Linked DNA regions of Homo sapiens. The protein of the gene in region 1 interacts with the protein of each later gene in a biochemical or structural test. Each region holds a gene or a part of one and is shown in the gene's direction. Other genes may lie near its edges.

Region 1 (2,752 bases):
CTGCCAGCTTTGCAGGGCAGCCACCCTGGCACATAGCTCACTGCAGAACCAGCCCCTGAGAAGGTGGAGGCCACATGGCTAGCCAGAGGGCACGCTCTAGGGCACTGCTCTGACCACAGAATGTGGGTGCAGATGGTGTCTGGGAAAATAGTGGTGTCCCCGCTAGGTTAAAGACATGGCATAATGGTTCCTGGGGGATGACAAAAAAACCCACCCCCACCCCCTTGCAGAAAGCATCACAGAGGCACAAGCCCTGTGCCCTGCAAGCCCCTCCTGGAAGTGGCCCAGCAGGGGCATCCCCTGCACACCCAGGCAAAGCCCAAGCCCTCTGCCTCCTCAACCACCCCAGGCCCTGCCCATGAGCCAGCCTTGCTGAACTCTGCCCTCTGTCCAGTTCTCCTCCAGACACAGTAGACATAGCCCCCAGCCTTTCTTGACCCTTAACCCAAATGTCCCCAAGCCTGGCCTCAAGAAGCCAAAGGCTGCCGCAAACCCAAATATTTCAGGTCCGGGTCCCTGGTGCAGACCCTGCCATGCGGGGATGTGGCACAGAAGGCCGGCCAGCCTGGGGAGCAGAGAAGGAGGAGAGGAGAGCTCCTGGCCCTGAGCCTGAATGCCTGTGGACACATATAGGGACTCCCAGCACGCACGGGATGGACTCCAATCGGCACACATGCACATTCCTTGCACACACACAGGCGCGACCGAGGGCCTTGCAGACATAGGGTGCACACGTGCGTGCCGCCTGCATACAGCATGCACTTGCAGAGACGGTTGGCACCTTCCCTTCTCTGGCCCCAAACCTGGGCCCTGAGGCTGTCTGCACACCTGGGTGCTTCCCACCACTGACTCTCTCGTCTGCCTTTGTCCCCGCAGGTGACGCAGCTGGACCAGAGGCTGGCACTCATCACCGACATGCTTCACCAGCTGCTCTCCTTGCACGGTGGCAGCACCCCCGGCAGCGGCGGCCCCCCCAGAGAGGGCGGGGCCCACATCACCCAGCCCTGCGGCAGTGGCGGCTCCGTCGACCCTGAGCTCTTCCTGCCCAGCAACACCCTGCCCACCTACGAGCAGCTGACCGTGCCCAGGAGGGGCCCCGATGAGGGGTCCTGAGGAGGGGATGGGGCTGGGGGATGGGCCTGAGTGAGAGGGGAGGCCAAGAGTGGCCCCACCTGGCCCTCTCTGAAGGAGGCCACCTCCTAAAAGGCCCAGAGAGAAGAGCCCCACTCTCAGAGGCCCCAATACCCCATGGACCATGCTGTCTGGCACAGCCTGCACTTGGGGGCTCAGCAAGGCCACCTCTTCCTGGCCGGTGTGGGGGCCCCGTCTCAGGTCTGAGTTGTTACCCCAAGCGCCCTGGCCCCCACATGGTGATGTTGACATCACTGGCATGGTGGTTGGGACCCAGTGGCAGGGCACAGGGCCTGGCCCATGTATGGCCAGGAAGTAGCACAGGCTGAGTGCAGGCCCACCCTGCTTGGCCCAGGGGGCTTCCTGAGGGGAGACAGAGCAACCCCTGGACCCCAGCCTCAAATCCAGGACCCTGCCAGGCACAGGCAGGGCAGGACCAGCCCACGCTGACTACAGGGCCGCCGGCAATAAAAGCCCAGGAGCCCATTTGGAGGGCCTGGGCCTGGCTCCCTCACTCTCAGGAAATGCTGACCCATGGGCAGGAGACTGTGGAGACTGCTCCTGAGCCCCCAGCTTCCAGCAGGAGGGACAGTCTCACCATTTCCCCAGGGCACGTGGTTGAGTGGGGGGAACGCCCACTTCCCTGGGTTAGACTGCCAGCTCTTCCTAGCTGGAGAGGAGCCCTGCCTCTCCGCCCCTGAGCCCACTGTGCGTGGGGCTCCCGCCTCCAACCCCTCGCCCAGTCCCAGCAGCCAGCCAAACACACAGAAGGGGACTGCCACCTCCCCTTGCCAGCTGCTGAGCCGCAGAGAAGTGACGGTTCCTACACAGGACAGGGGTTCCTTCTGGGCATTACATCGCATAGAAATCAATAATTTGTGGTGATTTGGATCTGTGTTTTAATGAGTTTCACAGTGTGATTTTGATTATTAATTGTGCAAGCTTTTCCTAATAAACGTGGAGAATCACAGGCTGGGCTGGGCACTGCTCTCACCTTGGTTCCTGGGGCATCCATGGGGTCTCTCACAGACAGGACCCCTGCAGTTCCCCTGGAAGCAGTGCCCAGGTGGCTGTGGAATAGGAACGCTATGTCCGTGTACTGAGGAGTAGGTCAGGGTTCAGAGGGGCTGCAAGATGCCATCGAAGGCTCTAGCTTAGCGACGTCGCTCCTGTTCTGGGCCCTGGGCTGGCCCTGGCCATGAAGTGCAGTCACAGTGTGGTCACTGCCTGTCTTCCAGCAGACTCTATGCCCTTGCGGCAGATGGGCTCTGTCTGGGCCTCTCTGTCTGCCCCTCCCAGGCCAGGGTGGCCCTTCATCAAGGACCCACATGCTCCACTCTGGGAGCAGGCCCCACCCAGGCCCATTCCCCAGGATGCCAAGGGCTAAACTCTGGAGGGGTTGTGGTGCAAGGAAGGCCTGGGGCCCCTGAGGCTCCCATATGCTCACCCCTGGCCTCCTCCGGGCCTCTATTTCCCCATTGGTAACACGATGCTCCCTTAGCCTGTCCAGTTCTCTGAGTGGGACAGAGGGGCCACCACCCTGCTCGCCCTGACCCTGTTCCTGCAGCTTTCTGTGAGGCCCGCCTCTCCTAAGGTGGAAAGAGTGCCTCACTCTCGGCAC
Region 2 (3,754 bases), on another chromosome or scaffold:
TTATTCTTATGACTCATGTTTTAAGCATGCATACTTTGTAAAGCTAATATAGCACTCTTCATTTTATCTTGATAAACGTTTGTATAAACATTTTTTCTCTTTTGATAATTTTGTTATTAAAGATTACAAACTTAGAAGAGCAATTAGAACAGTTTAGAGAAGAACTGGAAAATAAGAATGAAGAAGTTCAACAATTACATATGCAATTAGAAATACAGAAAAAGGAATCTACTACCCGCCTACAAGAACTTGAACAGGAAAACAAATTATTTAAGGTAATTAGTTAAGAAAAACTTTTATCTGTAAATAAGTCATAGTTTCAGTCCTATATTGCTTTATTATTATTATTATTATTATTTCTTTCTTTTTTTTTTTTTTTTTGAGACTTAGTCTCACTCTGTTGCCCAGGCTGGAGTGCAATGGTGTGATCTCGGCTCATTGCAAGCTCCGCCTCCCTGGTTCAAGCAATTCTGCCTCAGCCTCCCGAGTAGCTGGGACTATAGGCACGTACCACCACGCCTGGCTAATTTTTGTATTTTTAGTAGAGATGGGGTTTCACCGTGTTAGCCAGGATGCTCTCGATCTCCTGACCTCGTGATCCGCCTGTCTTGGCCTCCCAAAGTGCTGGGATTACAGGCGTGAGCCACCACACCTGGCCCCTATATTGCTTTATTAAGCATTCGATAAATCCAGCTGTTAAATAATACTCAACAGAGGAACATTAACAGGCAGACACATTTGCATACAGCTTATTTTCAGCCCAACCTGAACATTTGAATTCATCATAAATGAAAATTTTGGGATCATTTATCAAAATATTTTAGAATTATTGATTTACAGTAACCATATGGTGTCTCTGATTTTATTCATTTGTACGTTATAGGCTCTGATTTCTTTTGTAATTATGTTCTGAAAATGATAGGTAATGATATATCCAACTGTGATAATTATTTTTGTTCCTAGGATGACATGGAGAAACTGGGACTTGCCATAAAGGAATCTGATGCCATGTCTACTCAAGACCAACATGTGCTATTTGGGAAATTTGCTCAAATAATACAGGAAAAAGAGGTAGAAATTGACCAATTAAATGAACAAGTTACGAAACTCCAGCAGCAACTTAAAATTACAACAGATAACAAGGTATACTCATTTAAAATTGATTATGAAATTAATATGAACCAGAGTTTTAAAGGGCAAAATGGTTATAATGTTGCTCCCCATTGAATTTAAAAAACAAACCAATTTTATTTTATTTTATTTTATTTTATTTATTTTTTTTGAGACAGAATCTCGCTCTGTCGCCCAGGCTGGAGTCCAATGGTGCAACCTCGGCTCACTGCAACCTCCACCTCCTAGGTTCAAGTGATTCTCCTGCCTCAGCCTCCCGAGTAGCTGGGATTACAGGCACCCACCATCACACCTGGCTAATTTTTTGTATTTTTAATAGAGATGGGGTTTCACCATGTTGACCAGGCTGGTCTCTATCTCCTGATGTCAGGTGATCCACCCACCTCAGCCTCCCAAAGTGCTGGTATTACTGGCATGAGCCACCACGCCTGGCCCAATTCTCTTTTATTAATTTTAATTTATTAAGACACATTGGTGGCCAGGCACAGAGGCTCACACCTGTAATCCTTATACTTTAGGAAGCCTAGGTGGGCGGATTGCTTGGGCCCAGGAGTTCAAGACCAGCCTGGGCAACATGGTGAAACTTTGTCTCTACAAAAAATATAAAAATTAACTGGACATGGTGGCATACCACCTGTAGTCCCAGCTGCAGTGAGCCTCATCATGCCACTGCACTCCAGCTTGGGTGACAGAGTGAGACCCTGTCTCAAAAAGAAAAAAAAAAAAAAGCAAAGACACATTGGTTTAATAATTTATATGTATTTTTCTCCCCTCCTAATATTGTCATAGGATTCTAATGTTTTTCAGAAAGGCTCTGTGACTTAGATTTTATCATGTTATTCTAACCAAATCTATTATAAATTATAATATTTAATATGAGTTAAGTAAGGTAATTACCTTTGGTGCCATCGGTTGTAGACTTTATTTCCGTACTTCATCCTTTTCCATTAAGAAGTATTGATATTGACTATTTTCCTAATAGGGAATCAGCAACTAAAAGCTTATATTACTTTATACTTAACAGAACTTTCTGAGCCTTGTTTGATATGATGGGGGAGATATTGGTCTATAATGAAATTAAGTAGTATGTCTGAGAAGTAGTGTATTATTTTTGTGTGTGATCATCTCTTTGAGGTACTGCCCTAAAATAAAGTAAAATTTTCAAAATGTAAATACATATATATTATGTATGTTACCTTTTTCATTAATTATTAGGTTATTGAAGAAAAAAATGAACTGATAAGGGATCTTGAAACCCAAATAGAATGTTTGATGAGTGATCAAGAATGTGTGAAGAGAAATAGAGAAGAAGAAATAGAGCAGCTCAATGAAGTGATTGAAAAACTTCAACAGGAATTGGCAAATATTGGACAGAAGACATCAATGAATGCTCATTCCCTCTCAGAAGAAGCAGACAGTTTAAAACATCAATTGGATGTGGTTATAGCTGAAAAGCTGGCCTTGGAACAGCAAGTAGAAACCGCTAATGAAGAAATGACCTTCATGAAAAATGTACTTAAAGAAACCAATTTTAAAATGAATCAGCTAACACAGGAATTATTCAGCTTAAAGAGAGAACGTGAAAGTGTGGAAAAGATTCAAAGCATACCAGAGAATAGTGTTAACGTGGCTATAGATCATCTGAGCAAAGACAAACCTGAACTAGAAGTAGTCCTTACAGAGGATGCTCTTAAATCCCTAGAAAATCAGACATACTTCAAATCTTTTGAAGAAAATGGCAAAGGTTCCATAATTAATTTGGAAACAAGGTTGCTACAACTTGAGAGCACTGTTAGTGCAAAGGACTTAGAACTTACCCAGTGTTATAAACAAATAAAAGACATGCAAGAACAAGGCCAGTTTGAAACAGAAATGCTTCAAAAGAAGATTGTAAACCTACAGAAAATAGTTGAAGAAAAAGTGGCTGCTGCTCTTGTCAGTCAAATCCAACTTGAGGCAGTTCAGGAATATGCAAAATTCTGTCAAGATAATCAAACAATTTCATCAGAACCTGAAAGAACAAATATTCAGAATTTAAATCAACTAAGAGAAGATGAGTTGGGGTCAGATATATCAGCATTAACCTTGAGAATATCAGAATTAGAAAGCCAGGTTGTTGAAATGCATACTAGTTTGATTTTAGAAAAAGAACAAGTAGAAATTGCAGAAAAAAATGTTTTAGAAAAAGAAAAGAAGCTGCTAGAACTACAGAAGCTATTGGAGGGCAATGAGAAAAAACAGAGAGAGAAAGAAAAGAAAAGAAGCCCTCAAGATGTTGAAGTTCTCAAGGTTAGTTTTGTATTTTATTAGTTTCATTTAAATACCCCAAGAAACTAAGCTGATTGCTAATTTACTAAATATGGTGTTCTGTTTACATCTAACAATTTATACAAGAAGGTTTTTATAAAAATATACCACTTATAAAAAATAAACTCTTGTTAAAAGAAAAACTAGGACAGGCGCGGTGGCCCACGCCTGTAATCCCAGCACTTTGGGAGGCCGAGGCGGGTGGATCTTGAGGTCAGGAGATCGAGACCATCCTGTCTAACACGGTGAAACCCCGTCTCTACTAAAAATACAAAAAATTATCCGGGCGTGGTGGTGGGTGCCTGTAGTCCCAGCT
Region 3 (3,754 bases), on another chromosome or scaffold:
GGCATATTTTCTTTTTTATCGTAATTGTTAAATTGTTTGTCTTCCCTGTTGAAACATAATTTGGGTGGAAGTGGGATTCCTGGTAGCCAATGGCTCATAGTAGACGTTCAACACGCAAGTGGATTGGATAGATGGAAGGATAGATGGGTAGATGGAAAGTTGGATGGATGGATGGATGGATGGATGGATGGATGGATGGATGGATGGATAGGGATTTTGGAGGAAGAGGAGTGAGCAGTCACTGAAAAGAATAGAAAAATAATGAGGCTTGCTCCCTCTCCCTAGTCAGAAGAGCCAGTAAGCAGCTTAGAGCTTTAATCCCACAAATTGTCAGGCAGCTGGCGCAAGAACAGGGAAAAAGAGAGAGAGAGAGAGAGAGAGACCCTGTCTGTGGTAGGTTATGGTCATCAGTGAAAAAGAACAAAAACCTTTGTTTTAAAACTCTCCTCAAAACAGATGATTGGCTAGAGGGTGCGGCACAAAGGAACTTGTCAGGGTGATGGAGACATTCTGTATCTGGATTGAGCAATGCAAGAACCTGGGTAAAGACACAGTCATGGTAACAGCTGTATACATCTGTTGAAAACTCATCAAACTTATCATATTTAGAAAGGGTACATTTTGCTTCATGTAAAGTATGCCTCAATAAAGTGTACTTGATTTTAAAATCAGGATAAAGGAAAAAAACATTGATCTTGGATAATGGGCAGGGGTTGGGGAGAAGGTCTTAATTATCATCATATCCTTTTAAAAACGTTTTTCAAGTGTGTGATGCTCTGATGACATTCTTAAGACACAGCAAGGCAAAGCAGTATCCCAAATGAGAGAGTGAGCATTCCAATAAATATTTTCTGTAAGACACTGATATGTCTATGACTATTTGCTAAATTTAAAAATCAACTTGGACCATATTTACTCCCTTAAAGTCTAATAGACGACTAATTTCTTCTATGTTCAGAACAAATATGTTGCTACTTTAAGAACAGCATACATAGGTGTGGTCGGCCCTCTGTGTCTAAGGCTTCTGCATCTGTGGATTCAACCAACAATGGACTGAAAATATTCCAAAAATAAAATAAAATTAATGAAACAACAACAAAAATAAAACAAATAAAAAAATGCCAGGTAACAACTACTTACAAAGCATTTACATAGTATTAGGTGTTAGAAGTAATCAAGAGATGATTTAAATCACCATCTATGATTGGCTGATATGCATAGGTTATATGCAAATACTATGCCACTATATATAAAGGACTTGAACATTCGCAAATTTTGGTATCTGCAGGGGATTCTGGAACCAAACCCCATGGATACCAAGAGACAACTATATATAAAATACTGAAAGAGGCATGGAGAGTGATTTTCAGGCCTCTACCTAAAGCCCTGAATATTAGAAATTACTGAATTTCTTCTCAGGAAGGAAATTACGCCATAAACCAGTGTTGCCACACACCCAGAGAACAAGATGACCCGACGCCCCAGCCTGGTCATGCCACATGAGCTGAGCAGTGGGTAGGCCACTGAGCCAGTGATAGAAATCACAAATTACAAAACGTCAGAGTACTTTCTGGAAATAAGCCTTCCTCTCCAGGGAACAACGCATTTGACACTTGACTGGGATACACTACCGGATCCTCCGAGGGTGATGGTTCTCAAGAAGGCAGAAGCAATGGTGACCAATAGACCTCCTTAAAGGCTGAGCCGCTGGGCACCTTCCTACTCCTCTCGACCGTGCTAGGATGACTGCAGCAGAGTCCCCGAGTCCTTTGATGCAAGGGTCTAGGTGAGTTCGAAGGAGAGCCATACTAGGCCAGGCAGAAAGGCCCATGGTGATGGCTGTCCACCCTGGTCAGGGGAATTCTAGGTTCAGGCCATGCGGCAAGGTCACCTTGAGGGACATGCTTTGCTCTAAGCTCAGCTTAAGTGTGTCTGAACCCCCCTCACTTCTTCCAACTGCAGAAGCACATGGAGAAGGGGGAGAAAGGGTTGCCCACCTCCTAAAATGAGGGCAGCGTGGTGAAGAGCCCCATCATGCCCCACCAAGGTCCTGTGTGCAGGGCAGGGCAGTGCCTATCCAGAAGGCCAGACCTCTAACTGCTGCTCTGTAGGACGTCCGGGCCTCACATGCAGGCTCCTATAAGCTGGCTGTCTTGGCAAGAGGGCCCTGGTACAGCACTGTGTTCATCACAGAAAACCACACCGTACATAATTTGTAACAGACAGAAATGCATTTGGCTCATGGTTCTGGAGACTGGGAACCCAGGATGGAGGGGCCACATCTGGCAAGGGCCTTCTTGCCATGACATGGTGGAAGGTATCACAAGGTTGGGGAAGGAGGGGTGGGCGGGGCGGGAAGAGAGAGAGAGAGAACAAGAGAGAGAGAATCCATTCATAAGGGTGGAGCCCTCATGACTAAACACCTCCCATTAGGTCCCACCTCCCAACACTGTTGCTTTGGGGATTAAGTTTCCAGCTGGCTTTTTTCAAACCTTAGCAACCACCAAACAGACAAGCCCTTCGGCCTGTCCTGGAGGGCGTTGAATGGCATGGCCTGGAGCTCAACCAGGAGAACCGTGCTCAGGAGGAAGAGACCAGAAGGATAACTCAAAAAGTTCTGAGAAGTTCCTAAGACCACCTGAAGAGAAGGAGCCTGCTGCCAATGGTGTGGACACCGCAGTGTGCTTGAGGAGACTTCAGAAACGAGAACTGGTAGGAGAAGGGGGTTGCACAGACCCTTTCCTCAGTTAGGCACCCTCTGCTCCCACCCTCATGCCCACCCTGACATCAGGCTAAGGGAGAGGCGCTCATCCATTGACAGGTGCCAGGCTGTCCTGGGCCTGGCAAACCCTGGCCTTGTACACCCACTCTCCACACGTCTGCCCCCACCCTCCCAGGGGCAGGGCCGGGCTTCCCTGCAGAGACACAGGGCAAAGAGGGAGAGAGAAGGCCTCAGGCCAGGGCATGGCCTAGTGCCTCCCAGCGCCAGGTCCTGACAGCCTGAGAGAGCTGGAATCAAGGAAGGTGATCCTGGGCCCCAGACAGACGTCAGTGAGCTTCAGCCTCTGGTGGCTGCACACCAGCCAGGGCAGCAGCGCCCCCTCCTGCCTGTGTTCAGCTGTGTGGGCTGCAAGAGGACTAAGGAGAGTTTCAAGGAGGCAGGCAGTGGGGGAGGAAGTGTCCCAGGTAGAGGCTGAAGCTTTAAGGAGGATGGGAGGGGAGGCTTCACCCGGAAGGAGCTTTTGGAGCAAGGGCCTGAAGGAAATTGGGGAGAGAGCCTGAGTATCTTTGGTAACTGGGAAGAGAGCATTCCAAGCAAAGGGAAAAGAAGAGAGGCTGTCAGACAAGTGTGCACCCACCATGTCTGGGCACATCGAGAAGGACCCTGTGGCTGGAGGGGAGGAAGGAGGGGAGAATGGAAAGTGAGACCAGAGGTGACCTGACCAGGGCCTTCGGAGCCCCGGTGAGGGGCTCAGCGGGTGGGTGTCATGGGTGTGAAGAGGTAGGTCCCTCATCACCAGTCAGCAAAGCGTTCCCTGGGCTCAGCTGAAGTCCTGCTGGAGTGTGTGCCCCCTGGACTGGAGGGGATGGGATTGGTGGGAATAAAGTTGTGAGTTTGGAGTTGTGGTGAGCAGAGCACGAAGTGAGCCCCCAGCACTGCCACTTCCGCGTGAGGGGTGAACTGGCCCTGCACTCTCTCCCCTTGAGTGTGGGCAGGACAACCCTCTCTGCCTACAACGGCTCAGCACTCGTA

Evidence for each region.
Region 2: the proteins of KCNQ1 (region 1) and AKAP9 form a complex in vitro, tested with the Homo sapiens proteins (one study listed by BioGRID).
Region 3: the proteins of KCNQ1 (region 1) and KCNE1 form a complex in vitro, tested with the Homo sapiens proteins (2 studies listed by BioGRID and IntAct).

What each region holds. Positions count from the first base shown.
Region 1 is NC_000011.10:2,846,891-2,849,642, forward strand, and holds the end of KCNQ1 (potassium voltage-gated channel subfamily KQT member 1), read left to right. Parts: intron 1-876; coding exon 877-1,113; 3' UTR 1,114-2,215; downstream 2,216-2,752. UniProt on the Homo sapiens protein: Pore-forming subunit of the voltage-gated potassium (Kv) channel involved in the regulation of cardiomyocyte excitability and important in normal development and functions of myocardium, inner ear, stomach and colon.
Region 2 is NC_000007.14:92,076,733-92,080,486, forward strand, and holds part of AKAP9 (A-kinase anchor protein 9), read left to right. Parts: intron 1-122; coding exon 123-275; intron 276-963; coding exon 964-1,143; intron 1,144-2,346; coding exon 2,347-3,420; intron 3,421-3,754. UniProt on the Homo sapiens protein: Scaffolding protein that assembles several protein kinases and phosphatases on the centrosome and Golgi apparatus. Required to maintain the integrity of the Golgi apparatus. Required for microtubule nucleation at the cis-side of the Golgi apparatus.
Region 3 is NC_000021.9:34,510,059-34,513,812, reverse strand, and holds the start of KCNE1 (potassium voltage-gated channel subfamily E member 1), read left to right. Parts: upstream 1-1,602; 5' UTR 1,603-1,786; intron 1,787-2,488; exon of another isoform or gene 2,489-2,497; 5' UTR 2,498-2,712; intron 2,713-3,754. UniProt on the Homo sapiens protein: Ancillary protein that functions as a regulatory subunit of the voltage-gated potassium (Kv) channel complex composed of pore-forming and potassium-conducting alpha subunits and of regulatory beta subunits.